Linked DNA regions of Homo sapiens: region 2 is linked to region 1. The links come from fine-mapping of genetic effects on gene expression. A gene starts in region 1. The other region holds a variant in brackets. All regions are shown on one strand. Distances are from middle to middle.

Evidence for each region. PIP is the estimated chance that this variant, and not a neighbour inherited with it, causes the effect.
Region 2: its variant is fine-mapped to the expression of MCF2 in whole blood (TOPMed, PIP 0.95).

What each region holds. Positions count from the first base shown.
Region 1 is chrX:139,704,171-139,712,519 of GRCh38, reverse strand. It overlaps MCF2 (MCF.2 cell line derived transforming sequence), which reads left to right and starts at 4,353. Exons shown (of 29, transcript NM_001171876.2): 1 at 4,353-4,414.
Region 2 is chrX:139,583,965-139,592,313 of GRCh38, reverse strand. It overlaps MCF2 (MCF.2 cell line derived transforming sequence), which reads left to right. Exons shown (of 29, transcript NM_001171876.2): 24 at 2,387-2,479; 25 at 3,876-3,954; 26 at 4,526-4,598; 27 at 5,827-5,936; 28 at 7,136-7,248. Among named protein-coding and RNA genes, the nearest start is that of F9, 57 kb to the right of the region's middle. The variant G/T (reference allele first, on the strand shown) is at 3,552.

The DNA.
Region 1 (8,349 bases):
ACCCATAAAAACTATTTGTTCAAATTGTGAAAACTATCTTGCATTATTATATTGTAAGAATAAGTTTAGAAAACTGTTGCACTTCAGGCAAAAGTCCATTTTAATTGACCTGAGGTTTTGCTAAATTCAATAAGAATTTTATTTTTTTCTGATTATACTGACGATACTTGCTCAAAATCAAGCAATACCTAATAATATAAACATAAAAGTCACTTAGTATCACAACCCCCCTGAGGTAACCATATTTTTTTGAATATGTATATGTATATATACACATATACACAACATATATACATATATAATTTTGTATCTATTGAACTATGTTATACACACTATAATTTTAAACCATAAAAAGTCGTATGATTGTTCTATATAAATTAATTCATATATATATGACTTTTAAATAGCTGTGTGGCATTTCATTTATTTCATGCACATGGTTTAACTATTTCCTAGTTTATTATATAAATTTCTCCTCCTCCTCTTGCCTGCTATTATGAATAACATGGCAATGTATTCTGTACAAAAATATTTCCATTCCTGCCCGAGTAGCTTCTTGGTGTAAAGTCAAAAATGTGGAATTCCTGGGGCAAAAGATATGTACATGACAAACTGTCTTTGAGAAAAGCTATATGAATCTGTGCCCGCAACAACAGTCAGCCAGTTTACCCTCCCCATTCTCAGCATTAAGTGCTCTCCATCTTTAATCATTCCTCATAGATCTGGGGTCAGCAACCCAGTCAGCATCTTTAGGGCTGTAGGGAAAAAAAGGTAATGAAGAATGTCTGACCAAGACTATATGTGGCCCACAAAGGGGGACATTTCTATTATCTTAGCTGTTTACAGAAAAAAAAATTTGCCAACTCCTGGATTAAAGGAAAAATAGTGTTTACTCTTGGTAATATTAGCTTTTCTTTGCTTATTTGTGAGTTCCAATAGATTTTCCATGTACATGTGGGTGTTTATATTTCCTCTTTTGTCAATTACACTTCCTTCACCCATTGTCCTATTAAGTTGCTCACCTTTTTTACTCATTATAATTCTGTATATTAGAATATGTGCATGTTGTCATGTATTTCACAAATATTTTTCTCTGTGTCAATTAATCATTAAGAATGTATCTTTTATATTGCACAGAAAGTTTTAGTGTTTATGCAATCAAAGCAAATATTCCGAGAATGATAGCAGGTGCTACTTTAGATATGGTAGTAAAAGAAGTTCTCTCTGACAAGGTGACATTTGAGCAGAGAACTGAATTAAGTGAGAGAGGGAGCCATTCATATATATGGATGAAGGGGAATCCAGGCCATGTGAACAGCAAATGCCCAGACCCCAAGATAGGAGCTTTCATGGCATATTGGAGGTACTGCCAGGAGGTCACTGTGACCAAAATGGAGGGAGATTGGTAGGAGTTGAAATTAGGTATGGAAGGATGAGAGCATGTAGAGCTGTGTAGACTATGATAAGGACATTAGATTTGATTCTGAATTCCAGTAGAAGTCTGGAATATTATGAACAGAGGAGTGACATAATCTCACTTAAGTTTTAAAAGGATCACTTCTATTTTTGGTATCTTTTAAAAATATGTGTTATATTTTCTTGTTGTAAAGTAAATGCATGTCCATTTTCAATTATATAGATAACATACAAAAAAGAACCAAGTAAGGATGATAGTATTTTAATAAGCTTTTCTGGATATATATATTTACCTTTATCTACATATATTAAGGTTGGGACATACCTTAAAGATCTTCTGGCCCAGAAATAAATCCAGGCATTTATGGTCAACTGTTCTTCAAAAAAGTTGCCAAAAACACACAATGGAGAAAAGACAGCCTCATCAATAAATGGTGTTGGGAAAACTGGATATACACATGCAAAACAATGAAATTAGACACATCTCACACCATGTGCAAAAATCAACTCAAAATGGATTAAAGACTTAAAGGTAAGACCTCAAACTGAATGTTCTCACCACAAAGATATGACAAATATATGAGGTCATGGATATGCTAATTACCCTGATTTCATCATTATACAGTGTATACATGTATTAAAACATCACACTGCACTCCATAAATTTTATATATATATATATATATATATATACATATGTATGTATTTGCTATGTGTCAATTCAAAATAAGTAACATAGAAGAAAAGTTTCTTGACATTAGTCTAGGCAGAGATTTTTTGGATATGACCCCAAAAGCACAGACAACAAAAGGAAATATAGACAAATGGGATAGCATTAAACTAAAAAGTTTTCTGTACATCAAAGGAAACAACTGAGTCAAAAGACCATCTATGGAATGGGAAAAATACTTACAGACCATACATCTGATAAGTGGTTAATACCCAAGATATATAAAGAACTCAACTCAATAGCAAAAAGTAGTAAATAACCCAATTAAAAATGGTCAAAGAACCTGAGTAGACATTTCTTAAAAAGAAGACATACAAATGGCCAACCAGTATATGACAAAATGTTCAACATCACTTATCATCACAAAAATGCAAATTAAAACCACATTTAGATAACATTTTGCACCTGTTAGGGTAGCAATTATCAAAAACATAAGATAACAAGTGCTTGTGAGGATGTGGAGAAAAGGGAGCCCTTGTTGGTGGGAATGTAAATTAGCACAGCCACTATGGAAAACAGTATGAATGTTCTGGCCCAGAAAAAATCCAGGCATTTATGGTCATATTATCAATTACCATATGATCCAGCAATGCCACTACTGGGTATATATCCAAAGAAAATGAAATCAGTCTGTCAAAGAGATATCTACACTCCCATGTTCATTGCAGCACTCTTCACAATAGCCAAGATATGGAAGCAACCTCAAGAAAATATTTTTTATATATACTGTATATATATATATATATATATATATATATGAATGATAGCATTCGTGTCTATATAGTGTATATATATACGAATAGCATTCGTATATATAGTATATGCTATATATGCTATGTATATAGTATATGCTATATATGCTATGTATATAGTATATGCTATATATACTATATACATAGTATATATAGCATATACTATATACATAGTATATGCTATATATACTATGTATATAGTATATGCTATATATGCTATGTATATAGTATATGCTATATATGCTATGTATATAGTATATGCTATATATGCTATGTATATAGTATATGCTATATATGCTATGTATATAGTATATGCTATATATACTATACTATATATACACAAATGCTATTCAGCCTTTAAAAAAGAATGAAATTCTGTCATTTGTGACAGTACGGATGAACCTAGTGGACATTATGCTAAGTGAAATAATCCAGACACAGAAAGAAAAATACTGTATGATCTCACTCCTATGGGGAATCTAAAAAAGTCAAACTCATAGAAGTAGAAAGTAGAATGGTGGTTTCCAGAGGATGGGGCAGGGTTTTGGGAGATGTTGGTCAAAGGATGCATCATTACACGTAGACAGGAGGACAAAGATCAAGAGATCTATTTTTTAATTTTTAAATTTTTTTTCATATTTTTATTTGTATATATTTTTTGAGATGGAGTCTTACTTTATTGCCCAGGCTGGAGTGCAGTGGTGTGATCTCAGCTCACTGCAACCTCTGCCTCTTGGCTTCAAGCGATTCTCCTGCCTCAGCCTCCTGAGTAGGTGGGATTACAGGTGTCCGCCATCACACCCAGCTAATTTTTGTATTTTTAGTAGATATGAGGTTTCACCATGTTGGCCAGGCTTGTCTCGAACTCGTGACCTCAAGTGATCCACCCACCTCGGCCCCCCAAAGTGCTGGGATTACAGGTGTGAGCCGCTGCGCCCTGCCAAGAAACCTATTGTACATCATGATAACTATAGTTAATAACAATATATTGTGTACTTGAAAACTGCTAAGAGAGTAGATTTTACATGTTCCCACCACAAAAAGGATACATATGTGAGGTAAAGAAAGTATTAATTAGCTTGATTTAGCCATTCCAGGATGTATACATACATCAGAAATCATATTGTACACCATACAATTTTTATTTGTCGTGTACAAAAAAAGATATGCCCAGCTTCTTCTGCATTTTGTGCAGAAGTATTTTGTTTTCAAACTGTCGGGCTAACTCTTGAGTGGGCGTTCTGTTTCTCCAGATTTGTCCTTGTAAATAAAAAAAAAAATTAGGTCTCCTTCCTCTACTGTGATACAGTGTATGATTTATAATTTTGTTTCTGGGTTCTACTTCAAGTCAAGGCTTCTCTACACTTTCAGTTGCTGACATCAGATTGGCTTTGAAACTTTTTTTCATGTTAAGAGCAAGAAGGCTTTTGTTCTTGGAGCAGGCAGAGAGTATTGTACATTCTTTTGGCCGAGGAAACAGAATGAGCTGCGACAGTCTTAAGGACAAACATTTGTGGTAAGTATTTCTTTACCTTAGAGTAATATAAGAAATGGATTGGGGCAATGAGTGGGTCAGTCTTGGAATATTTTTATAGATAGCATCCCCCATAGCCAGTCATTTTCATTCTTGTAGTAGTTTCCCCTTTTCCCCAGAATCCCCCATTTCTAGGACCAATGATTTGCAGGACACAGTGCAGTTCTTGTAAAGGTGTATCTGTCCATACAGACCGCAATAGCCTGCTTTGGGTTTCTCTGACAGTTCTTTGTCTACTGTTCAGTTTTTTCTAAAATAATTAGGATTCCCAAGTAAAGGCAGGTGGGAATTTCTCAACTCTGGATTAGAACTTCACCACTGTAAACCTGGAACTATTAGTATAACAAATCTGGTGTGCACCTGGGCTTCATGGGATGGCTGTACCTTGGTGTGGTTCCTATGCAATGTATGGGCCTCAGTCTCTGAGCCGTCTAGGGATTAGGACTTGAGAAATTGCCTTGTGAACTTGCATATGGTTGGCTTATAAATTTGGACAGCAGATTATTTATTTTCAGTGGGTAAAAGACCATTCCATTATTTGTGTCCAGTTCTTTTTAAGCACGCAAATTTTCCAGACCAAGAAGAACTACCTTGGTCCCCAGAAGGTAGCCGGGGGGATGTAGACTTGGAGAGCAAAGAAAAATGGGAGGTCTTGAGGGCAATCTTCCAAAAGAATATGGTGATGTTTCTCACATTTTTTAAAGCAGGGTCTCTAGTGAGGCAAAACCACATTTTATTCTTGCCTCTATAGTATTTATTTGTGGAGGTAGAAAGTTTCTGGGGAAGGAGTGGGACTGTTTATATGAAGAACCTAGAGGTCTTCTCAGAATGAAAGGATTGGAAACTCCAACCCTTTTTTTCTCTGATATGCAAGGTTCTTGAAAGTTGCTTGAGGGGCCCAAAAAGATCCTAAGGAAAACTCACCAAACTTGGTGAGAAAGAGGTAGAAAGGGATGGGAGCAGCTCCCTCCCAGAGCCCTCCATCCTTCTTTTTTCATCTGAGCTGGTTACTCTGCCGGCTAGCTGCACATCTCTTTCTGAAATTCCCTTTGTCTGTGCTCCTGTATCGGATCATTATTTCCTAGATTCATTGTCTTGCTCTTCATTGATGTACTTCATCATTTTTTTGGGGAATACATTCTCTACTAACTTCTTTATATGGGTTATAAACTTTTATTAATAATAATAATAATAATAATTATGTCTGAAAATATCTTAGACAACCTTTATTTTTGTTTGAGAGTCTGACGCAGTATAAAGTTCCAAGCTGAAAAACCTTTTCCCCCCTGATTTTGTGTTTATTTTTCCATTAGTTTGTAGAATCCAGTGTTGCTATTGAGAAGTTCAATGTCATTTTGTTTCATTTTTTTTCAACTTTAATTTTAGATAAGGGGGTACATGTGCAGATTTGTCATATGGGAATATTACATGATGCTGAGGCTTAAGGTACAGATCCTGTCATCCTGGTAGTGAGCATAGTACCCAATAGTTGTTTTTTTTTTTATCCTCCCCACCTCCCTGCACCCTCTAGTAGTCCACAATATCTGTTGTTCCCATATTAATGTCCATGTGTGCTCAATGCTTAGCTCCCTTCATAAATGAGAACATGTGGTATTTGGTTTTCTGTTCCTGCACTAACTTGCTTAGAATTATGGCCTCCAGCTCCGTGCATGTTGCTGCAAAGAATGATTTCTTTCTTTTTTATGGCTGCCTAGTATTCCATAATGTATATGTAGCACATTTTCTTTATCCCATTTACCACTGATGGGAACCTGGGTTGACTCCATGTCTTTGCTATTGTGAACAGTGCAGTGATGAACATACAAGTGCATGTGTCTTTTTGGTAGAATAATTTCTTTTGGGTACATACCCAGTAATGGGATTGCTGTGTCCAGTGGTAGAATTGTTTTAAGTTCTTTCAGAAATCTCCAGACTGCTTTCCACAGCGGCTGGACTAATTTACATTTCCACCAACAGTGTATAAGTGTTTGCTTTTCTCTGCTGCCTTGCCAGCCAGCATCTGTTGTTTTTTGACTTTTTAGTAATAGCCATTCTGACTGGTGTGAGATGGTATCTCATTGTGGTTTTGATTTGCATTTCTCTGATGATAGTGATGCTGAGTATTGTTTCATATATTTGTTGGCCATTTGTATGTCTTCTTTCGAAAAGTGCCTGTTCATGTCATTTGCCCACTTTTTAATGGTGTTATTTGGTTTTTACTTGTTAATTTTTTCAAGTTCCCTATAGATTCTGAGTATTAGACCTTTGTCAGATACATAGTTTGCAAATATCTTCTCCCATTCTGTAGGTTGTCTGTTTGCTCTGCTGATAGTTTCTTTTGCTGTACAGAAGCTCTTTAGTTTAATGAGGTCCCACTGGTCTATTTCTGGTTTTATTGCAATTGCTTTTAGGGACTTAGCCAAAAATTCTTTACCAAGGCCAATGTCGAAAAGAGTATTTCCTAGGTTTTCTTCCAGGATTTCTATAGTTTGAGATCTTACATTAAAATCTTTAATCCATTTTTAGTTAATTTTTGCATATGGAGAAAGGTATGGGCCCAGCTTCAATCTTCTGCATATGGCTAGCCAGTTATCTCAGCACCATTTACTGAATATGGAATTGTTTTCCCACTGCTTGTTTTGGTTGGCCTTGTCAAAGATCAGATGGTTGTAGCTGTGCAGCTTTATTTCTGAGTTCTCTATTCTGTTCCATTGGTCTATGTGTCTGTTTTTGTACCACTACCAAGCTGTCTTTATTTGTTTGTTTGTTTGTTTTTGAGACTGAGTCTCACTCTGTCGCCTAGGCTGGAGTGCAATGGTGTGATCTCAGCTCACTGCAACCTATGCCCCTGGATTCAAGCAATTCTCCTGCCTCAGCCTCCCCAGTAGCTGGAATTACAGGTGCCCGCCACCACGCCTGGCTGATTTGTGTATGTTTTAGTAGAGATGGGGTTTCACCATGTTGGCCAGGCTGGTTTCAAACTCCTGACCTCAAGTGATCTGGCCACCTCAGCCTCCCAAAGTGCTGGGATTACAGATGTGAGCCACTGTGCCCAGCCACCCAAGTTGTTTTGTTTACTGTGGCTTTATAGTGTAGTTTGAAGTTGGGTAGTGTGATGCCTCCGTCTTTGTTCTTTTTGCTTTGGATTGCTTTGGTTATTTGGGCTCTTTTTTGGTTTCATGTGAATTTTAGAATAGTTTTTTTTTTTTCTAATTGTGTGAAGAATGCCATTAGCAGTTTGATAGGAATAGCACTGAATCTGTAGATTGCTTTGGGCAGTATGGCCATTTTTATGATATTGATTCTTCCAATCCATGAACATGGAATGTTTTTCCATTTATTTGTGTCATTCCTGATTTCTTTCATCAGTGTTTTGTAGTTCTCTTTGTGGAGACTTTTCACCTCCTTGGTTAGGTGTATTTCTAGGTATTTCATTTTCTTTGTGGCTGTTGTGAGTGAGACTGTGTTCTTTATTTTTGTTTAATTTTTCATTTCCACAGGTTATTGGGGAACTGGTGGTGTTTTGTTACATGAGTAAGTTCTTTAGTGGTGATTTTTGAGATTTTGGGGACTGTGTTCTTGATTTCACTCTCAGCCTGGATGTTGTTGATGCATAGAAATGGTACTGATTTTTGTACATTAATTTTGTATCCTGCAACTTTACTTAAGCTGTCCAAATTTATAAGCCAATCATATGCAAGTTCACAAGGCAATTTCTAGGAGCCTTTTGGCAGCATCTTTAAAATTTTCTAAGTATAGATTCATATCATCAAGGAAAAGAGATTGTGTGACTTCTTTTCATACGTGGATGCTTTTTATTTCTTTCTCTTGCCTGACTGCTCTGGCTAGGACTTCCAGTACTATGTTGAATAGGAGTGGAGAGAGGGCATCCTTATCTTGTTCTGGTTCTCAAGGTG
Region 2 (8,349 bases), 120 kb after region 1:
ATAGATTCAAGAAACATTTCAATAGAAGGTAGACAGATGGGCTTGATGACTTACTAGCTACAAAAATTAAATAATACCTGACATTGAAGGAAGAAAATCTTTCTGATTCTTCTTTGGTTCCCCAGTAATGCCAAGTATCCTTAATAAACAATATTAGCCAGTGATGCCTACAAGGCTTTAGACCAGGATTACTTGGAAAATGGTGATACCACTAAAAATTAGGATATTTCTTAGGGTTCACTACGCTCACTTCTGCTTGCCTGCTTATCATGAGATTCCAGCATTAAGCAATTGCTAGCATTCCTAGTCAATGTGTTATTTAAGAATCTGGGTTATTAGTTTCACAGTCTTACCCTTGGTAGAGAGGATCATTGCAGATATTCCACTGCTGAACCTTCTCTCTCACTTTTTTTTTTAACTTTTATTTTAGATTCAGGGGGTACATCTGCAGGTTTGTTACCTGGCTGTATTGCATGATGTTTAGGTTTGGGGCACAAATATCCCATCACCCAGGTACTGAGCATTGTCCCCAAGAGTTAGTTTTCCAACCCTTGTCCCTCTCCCTCCGTCCCTCCTCTGGTAGTCCCCAGTGTCTGTTGTTGCCTTTGTCTATGTCTCTCACTTTAAATGAACTCTTGTTTTGACTGCACCATACAAAGCTGGGATCCCATGGCCTGACCATGTACTTTCTAATTATTTATATGTTATATTTTAAGTTGGCTGCTTATATGCAAGGAAAGGCCCTATCTAAAGTCAAAGTTGACCAGATGGGGAGATTCGAGTCCTTCAGATTCCTTAGTTCATGTGTTTATTATCATCGATTTTTAAAAATTTTACAAATTGCACATAGTCCTTACTATGTGCAACACATAATGGTTAGATTTCCAGGGCAACTTAGAAAAGTTCACTTAATTGATAATGATGTACTATATGTTTGCAATAAAAAAATAACAAAACAATTGCAACTTAAATAGGGGAAAGAGTAGAAAGCAAACTCACACTTTAGAAAGCTCATTATAGGATCTAAGCATTTACTCCATGCTATTTAGTCCTTATATCAACCCTATGAAATAGGTGTTCTTTCTATTTTATAGTTGAGGAAACTGAAGTTTAGAAAAGTTAAGCAACTTGCACCAAGACACATAGCTAGTGAATGGTAGAGATGTATTCCAATCCAGACCTCTCTAACTTCAAAGCCTGTGGGCCTTCCAGCTTATCATGTTATTAAGACAAAACCATGTAATGAAACAAAATTAATTTTTAAAAATATTGAATATGAGATTACTATTCATCTTAAATTGTGATATTTGAGCAGAAGTAGGTTAGTTGGAATGATGGAGTGAGAATATAAAGATAGTTTGGGACATTGTGAAAATAACTTCTTACTACGTTCAGGGTGGATGTTACAGGTTCTTTCATTAATATGTTATGTTAAATTACATTTCTAAGCATAAGTGCTTTTCTTCTCCTTGGTATGGCGATCTCCCTAGCACTATCTTTAATGCTTATTAGCTCTAATAAGGGCCATTTGGGGGGCTCATAACTAGAACAGAGAGTGAGATACTCCTTTAGATAATTAGGTTAAGAATTGAAAGAAAAGAGGAAGGCAGAAAGGAACTAAAAGAATGTTTGTGCAAAGGAGTGAGATTGCCCAAAATGCAATTAGCCAAGCTGTTAGCAGAAAATGATGAAAGAAAATGGAAGAGTTTATGACTTGCACAATCACGCTGAGGAAAAGAAAAAATTGTGGTAAGGAATAAGGAAGAGATATTGTGTACAGAAGTTTCACTGGGTACAAAAAGACAACAATGTCCCATTACATATTATTATTATTATTTTTTTTTTAGAAAGGCCAAGGGATTGGTGGAAAATAGAGAGATCCTTGTGTACCTGGCTGGTTCTCTCCTGTCCCATGAATTAGATGTTTATAACTTGTAGGACTTCTATCAAAATAAATTATAATTTGTAGGATTAAGTGGTCTGTCAAATGATTATTCTAAATAACTATTTAAATTAATTTTCAGTGGCTTTTCTTTATTGATGTTTAATGACTTCTGTGTTTGACTCAATAATTTGTTTTAATAGTGTACTATTAATTTATAACATAATTAGATCTTAGATGGGCTACTTGGATGTTCAGATTTATAACATTTGTGTCAACCACTGAAATGAAGCGTGCAATCTGAACTATAAAGTGCATAGTTCAATGAAAACATTTAAATACTCTCGTCTATGATTGTAATTACTATTTCATATTCATTTAATATAACATGTATTTTTCTGCCCAAGAGAAATTCTGTTTCACTTAGAATATGATAGGGTAGATTTAATGTAATTTCATATTCAAAATAAAATGCTCATGAAAATTTTGACTTATTTATTATAGATGGATGAAGTTGGAATCACTGAATATGTAAAAGGTGATAACCGCAAGTTTGAAATCTGGTATGGTGAAAAGGAAGAAGTTTATATTGTCCAGGTTGGTCATTTGAAAATTCTTCTAGAAACCCAAACCTGCATTGAAATACAAAAGCCCGAATTTATAAACAAAAATAATTTTGGTCGCATTTCAAAATTTCCACCCCTTTCATGTAGGTCAGTTAAATATTATTTGAATATTCTTTGTGATGTATTTAAATGTTTTCTAGTAGTTACATTGAGATATGCCTGTGGTGTTCTCTAGGGCTTCAAGTTTTCACAACTACATAAGAGACTTATCAACTAGAGCTGACAGCTTGGCAGGTACTTCTCTGTCCCCATCAAATTTCCAAGTTATGGAATTATAATAGTTCTGAGTTCCTCTTATGCTAAGCATTCTAGGGGTACCTGATTATGAGACATGGGGATGTGACAGTTCAGACTTGCTTTCTGCTTCTAAAGAACATGGTTAAAGCCCTGGCCAGTTGTATAGGGTCCAACATGTTTCAGGGAAGGGAAGAGGAATCAGAACATTTCAAGAGGATGTTGTCATTGCAATAAATATTTGTATCTGGAGTTGTCAATGTGCTGTTATCTGTTAAAAATGCTCAGTGTTTTTTGTTTGTTGTAATTCTTTACTAGGTGACTGCAATCTATAAAAATATGTTTTCTTGGCTTGCTTAAGATATAATATTTGGTATCATTTAACAAACATCTTGTAAGTGATGGGAGGATATTTAAGGAGGATTTCATGTTACCATCAGTCACCAAGGTTATTCTGCAATAGATGGCCTTTTCAGAAATAGTAGAGCTTGTTTTATTTTACTAAAATTAAACATCAAAATGTTATATTTTAAAAAGAATCCTCCTGTAAAGACAAAATAAGTGAAATTATATTTCACAGTTTCATCCAAGCATTATTTTACCATTATTTAAGGGCAATTTCAAAATGGATTTTTTTTTTTTGAGACAGCGTCTCACCCTGTTGCTCAGGCTGGAGTGCAGTGGTGTGATCTCGGCTCACTTCAACCTCTGCCTCCCAGGCTCAAGCGATTCTCCCACCTCACCCTCTCAAGTAGCTGGGACTACAGGCACATGCCACCACACCTGGCTAATTATTATTATTATTATTA[G/T]TAGTAGTAGTAGTAGTAGAGATGGGGTTTCCCTATGTTCCCCAGGCTGGTCTCAAACTCCTGGGCTCAAGAGATCTGCCCACCTTGGCCTCCCAAAGTCCTGGGATTACAGCAAAAATGGTTCTGACTGTATTATTTCATCTAATCTGATAGCAAATTATTTGCTTCATAAAAATTTTAACAATCAAACGGTTAAGATTTGAGTATGGTGTTATAGGGAGTAGATCATATTTTATGTACACAATTACATTTGTTTTATTATAGTACATCCTTTTTAAAAGGAAATGTGTACCACCTCCCTCCCGCTTTTTTTTTAATCTTTAGGCTTCTAATGTAGATGTGAAGATGACGTGGCTAAAAGAAATAAGAAATATTTTGTTGAAGCAGCAGGAACTTTTGACAGGTAAATTCAAGCCTGCATTCTTCAGAACAAGAAGTATAGTAACAGCTTATTGACTCAGATTTTTAAATTATTTTTCCAGAGAATGGGGCTGATATTTACTTTATACTATTACAATGAGAAGATTTGTTAATTTAATTAGTAGGAGATTGAGATTCAGAGGATTGTTTAAACTATTTTGAAGAATGAACTTTACACTAGAAAATGAACCCTTGTGCTTAAGAAGCAGTTGAGAAGCAACACAGTGAACTGATTGTGGTAATCCCCAGTCCTTTCCATGAGGTGACTCTGCTTAATATCTCGAGTAATCATTGCTCTATAATGATGGAATGGGAGCCAGTTCTACTTCTAAACTTGAACTTCTTGAATAAAATATTATATGGTCCAGACCTTTCCAAATTCAAACTTGAGACTGGCCTTCCCTCTGATTATTTCAAGTCTGTGAAGCTTAAGTCTAATGGCAAGGATGCGTGTGTGTGTGTGTGTGTGTGTGTGAGAGAGAGAAAGTCATTGGCCTTCAAGGAAGTAAGAAGTGTGACTTCTGAATGATAATATGCTTTGTTTTATTTCTCAGTTAAAAAAAGAAAGCAACAGGATCAATTAACAGAACGGGATAAGTTTCAGATTTCTCTTCAGCAGAATGATGAGTAAGTGATTATTCTTTAAGAAATACCACTCCTGCAATCTTTTGTTTTCTGTATGTAACATGAAGCAATGTAATTAAAGTATCTCTGACAAGAACCATCCACCAATTTAGCAATAACTCATCAAATTCCATAAACATCATTTTCTGAGGTCCAGCCTTATACTGGAGGCTGATAGTTCTTAATAGTTATCCCTTGGGTTGATTTCTAAACATGATTGAAAATGCTTTATTTTTAATATATCATTGGAAGAATTACATGTAGGCTGACAGGAAAGGAGGCTGTGCTCATAAGCTTTTTTTTTCAAAGTATTTTTGGTCACCTTTGATCTGACTGGAAAAAGAGGGTTGTAAGAATATGGGAATAGAGCAAATGAAGGACTGGCTCACAGTTTTACAGTCCCTTGATGGGGACCTCTTGCTGGTGATTTGGCCTCTCTCTACATAGAGAGAAGGTATGGATCCTGGGAGGGAACTGAGCCTGGACACAACCAGGAGTCATTAAGGAAGCCTCTAGAAATTCCAAAAGGTGGAGTTCTCGCTGAACATTTGCATATATACAGAAAGAATTCTCTCATTGATTCTGAAGGCCTGGCACAGAGATTCACCACACAGCATCTGCTTGCTGTGGTGATCATTGAATGACTTATTAGAAATACTGTTTTTTCCTTCGCTGCATGTCATCTTTCTGAGGTAGCTAAAATCAGATGAAACATATGGTGGTTCACGTGGAGATTTAGGAGAACCATTTAAAAGTTGCAGATAAAGTCTTTATCTTTCAGAGTTCAAAAAGCTCCATCTTTTATCGTACATTATAGGAGTAACATCTTTAGGTTTTATGCAGTAATTGACTTAATAGTAGCTGGTACATACTCAACAATATGAATCAGTTGAAGGTTTCATCTTCATTTATATACAACAACTTACCTAATTCATTAATGTTATAAGTCCACAGAGCAACGGGGATTGTATACAATACCCTTACTTTGGGTCTAGAAGGGAGTAGTTTTTCTCCTTACATAATAGAGAACCTGCTGGCTTGGATCTGAGATTTAAGCTTTTGTATATTATAACCTATTGCCACACAGATTTAAATAGGGAGTATTGGCTGTTTGGATGGATTCTCAGCATGTTCTTAACACTTGGTATCAATGGAAGAAATACCACTTTAAATTTCTTTTTACTTGTAAACTGTACAAAAGCTCACTTAGTTTTATACATCACTATTTCAGAAAGCAACAGGGAGCTTTTATAAGTACTGAGGAAACTGAATTGGAACACACCAGCACTGTGGTGGAGGTCTGTGAGGCAATTGCGTCAGTTCAGGCAGAAGCAAATACAGGTATGTGTCATGGTCATCTTAAGACGAGACTCATGGGTGTGCAAATTTTTACCTCGTATTATTAATTTGGAAATCTACCCACTTGGTATTTTTGTATAAACAAAATACAGTTAACCCATTTTTATAAGGCTCTCATGTCTTGCATATGCAGGACACTCTGATGGGCACTAGAGAGTATTGGTTGTCAAAGTGTGGTCCCTGGACCACTAGAATCAACATCACCTGGAAACTTTTACAGAAGACAAATTCTCTTGCTCTATTCAGACCTTCTGGATCAGAAACTCTGGGAACAAGGCCCAGCCACTTGAGTTTTAACAGGCTCTCTCTGTGATTTTGATGCATGGTCAAGTTTGGGAACCCCTGCTATAAAGGATATAGTGATGAATAAAACATATATACTGGCTTCAAGGAATGCGCATTTCACTTACCGTTGGTTTAATGAATAGAGAAGAGTCATTAACAGCCGAAATATTTATTCTTCCTCTGTGAATGGTTTTATTTGAAGTGATTTTAAATACTTTATTTAATTCAACAAATATTGACATAGCATGATCTGCATTCCAGGAGTTATGCAAAGTGCTAGGCATATAGTCTAACTAGGATACACTCAGCTGCCATCCTCATGAAGCTAGGAGAATAGAAAGATAGTTAAACAAGCAATTAAAAGTAAATTTGGCGAGTGTTACAGCAGGGAAGTACGAAGTGCTGTAGAAGCATACATGAGGATCACCTAAACAACTCTAGGATCAACAGCATAGACTTCTTTGGAGAAATGCCTAACAGAGTGCCTGATACTCAACACTTTAATATGATGATCCTTAATATGGAAGAGTTCTCTACTGGTTGAGGAGAAAAAGGTAATGATAGCCTTGTAGAGTTTCCATTTATCCAATTAAAGGTCACTTCCCTCAGGTCATCTATGCTGTGGCCCCCAAAGAAGTAAGGAGAGAGCATAGTACTAATGCCTTCATTTGACAGGTGAGGAAACCAAGTTAGAAAAAGATGACAATGACTTTTCCCAGGTTGCATGAATAGTTTAATGTGGCCAGGATGAGATCTGTTAATTTGCTGCTTACATTAGATTGGTTAATCCATTTTTTTAAATTCAACTTTTTAAAGGATTACAGCTAGTTTTACTTCTCACCTTGTGGTAAATTAGCACCATGAAGTAACTGCCACATTCCACACTTTTCTTATAGTTTGGACTGAGGCATCACAATCTGCAGAAATCTCTGAAGAACCTGCGGAATGGTCAAGCAACTATTTCTACCCTACTTATGATGAAAATGAAGAAGAAAATAGGCCCCTCATGGTTAGTAATAATATAGTAAATTAAAATTATTGAGGCAGTTTTACTGATGAAATATAGGTGGAGCACATAGGGGCAATCTTTTGTCAGCATCCTTGAGGCCATTAGGAGTAAGCCATTGCTAAAATAGTTGAAATAAATCTTATTATGAACATCAGGAAGCACTTCTGTCTTTAAGTAGAACCTGTTTGACCTATACATAGAGCTTCTGCTGATGTTGATGAAATAGATAGTCAATCTTTCCAAATCTCTAAAATCCCAGTTTTATCTTTAGTAGAGCTTCACCACTGTGTTTTCCATCCAGGCATGTGAAATAAAATCAGAGAACAAAGGGGCTTCAAATACACTTTAAAAACCAGTTTGGATTCCAGATTAGAAAATAAAGGAAATAAGCATTATACATTAAAAACGATTTAATAACATCTGGGGGATATATTTTAGTGTGTTCTCAAAAATACACTAATGATATAAAATCTCAGCATATTAGAGCAAGGGAGCACCCTGTAAAATTAAAGGAGGTTGCTTTAAGGTTAAAGTGTTTATAGAAGGAATAGTTTGCAAGTTGGTAGGATACCAGTGGGCTATTAAAGAGGAGGTAGGACTGTTTGGGAGTAAATCCCTACTTTTCTAAAGTCACCAGCTTGGAAGGTAGGAGTGATGCTTGGAGGTAGAGTGCTCCTTGGTGCCCTTCAGAGGAATCAATTACATTTGGCAGTTCTACTGTTAGTATAAGAGGGTAAACCTCGTCTCTACTAAAAATACAAAATTAGGCGGTTGTGGTGGCGCATGCCTGTAATCCCAGCTATTCAGGAGGCTGAGGCAGGAGAATCGCTTGAACCCAGGAGGTGCAGGTTGCAGTGAGCTGAGATAGTGCCCTTGCACTCCAGCCTGGGCAACAAGAGCGAAACTCTGTCTCAAAAAAAAAAAAAAAAAAAAAAAAGGATAATGGCATGGATAATCACAAAGCTGTACAGCATTGACTCTGAAATGCAGTCTTTAAAAAAGTAGATATTGTTTCTCCTAATACTATGATGACCATAATACATATTTGTGTGATAGTTTACCGTTTCCCAAATGATTTCTCAATTAATATTCACAGTATTA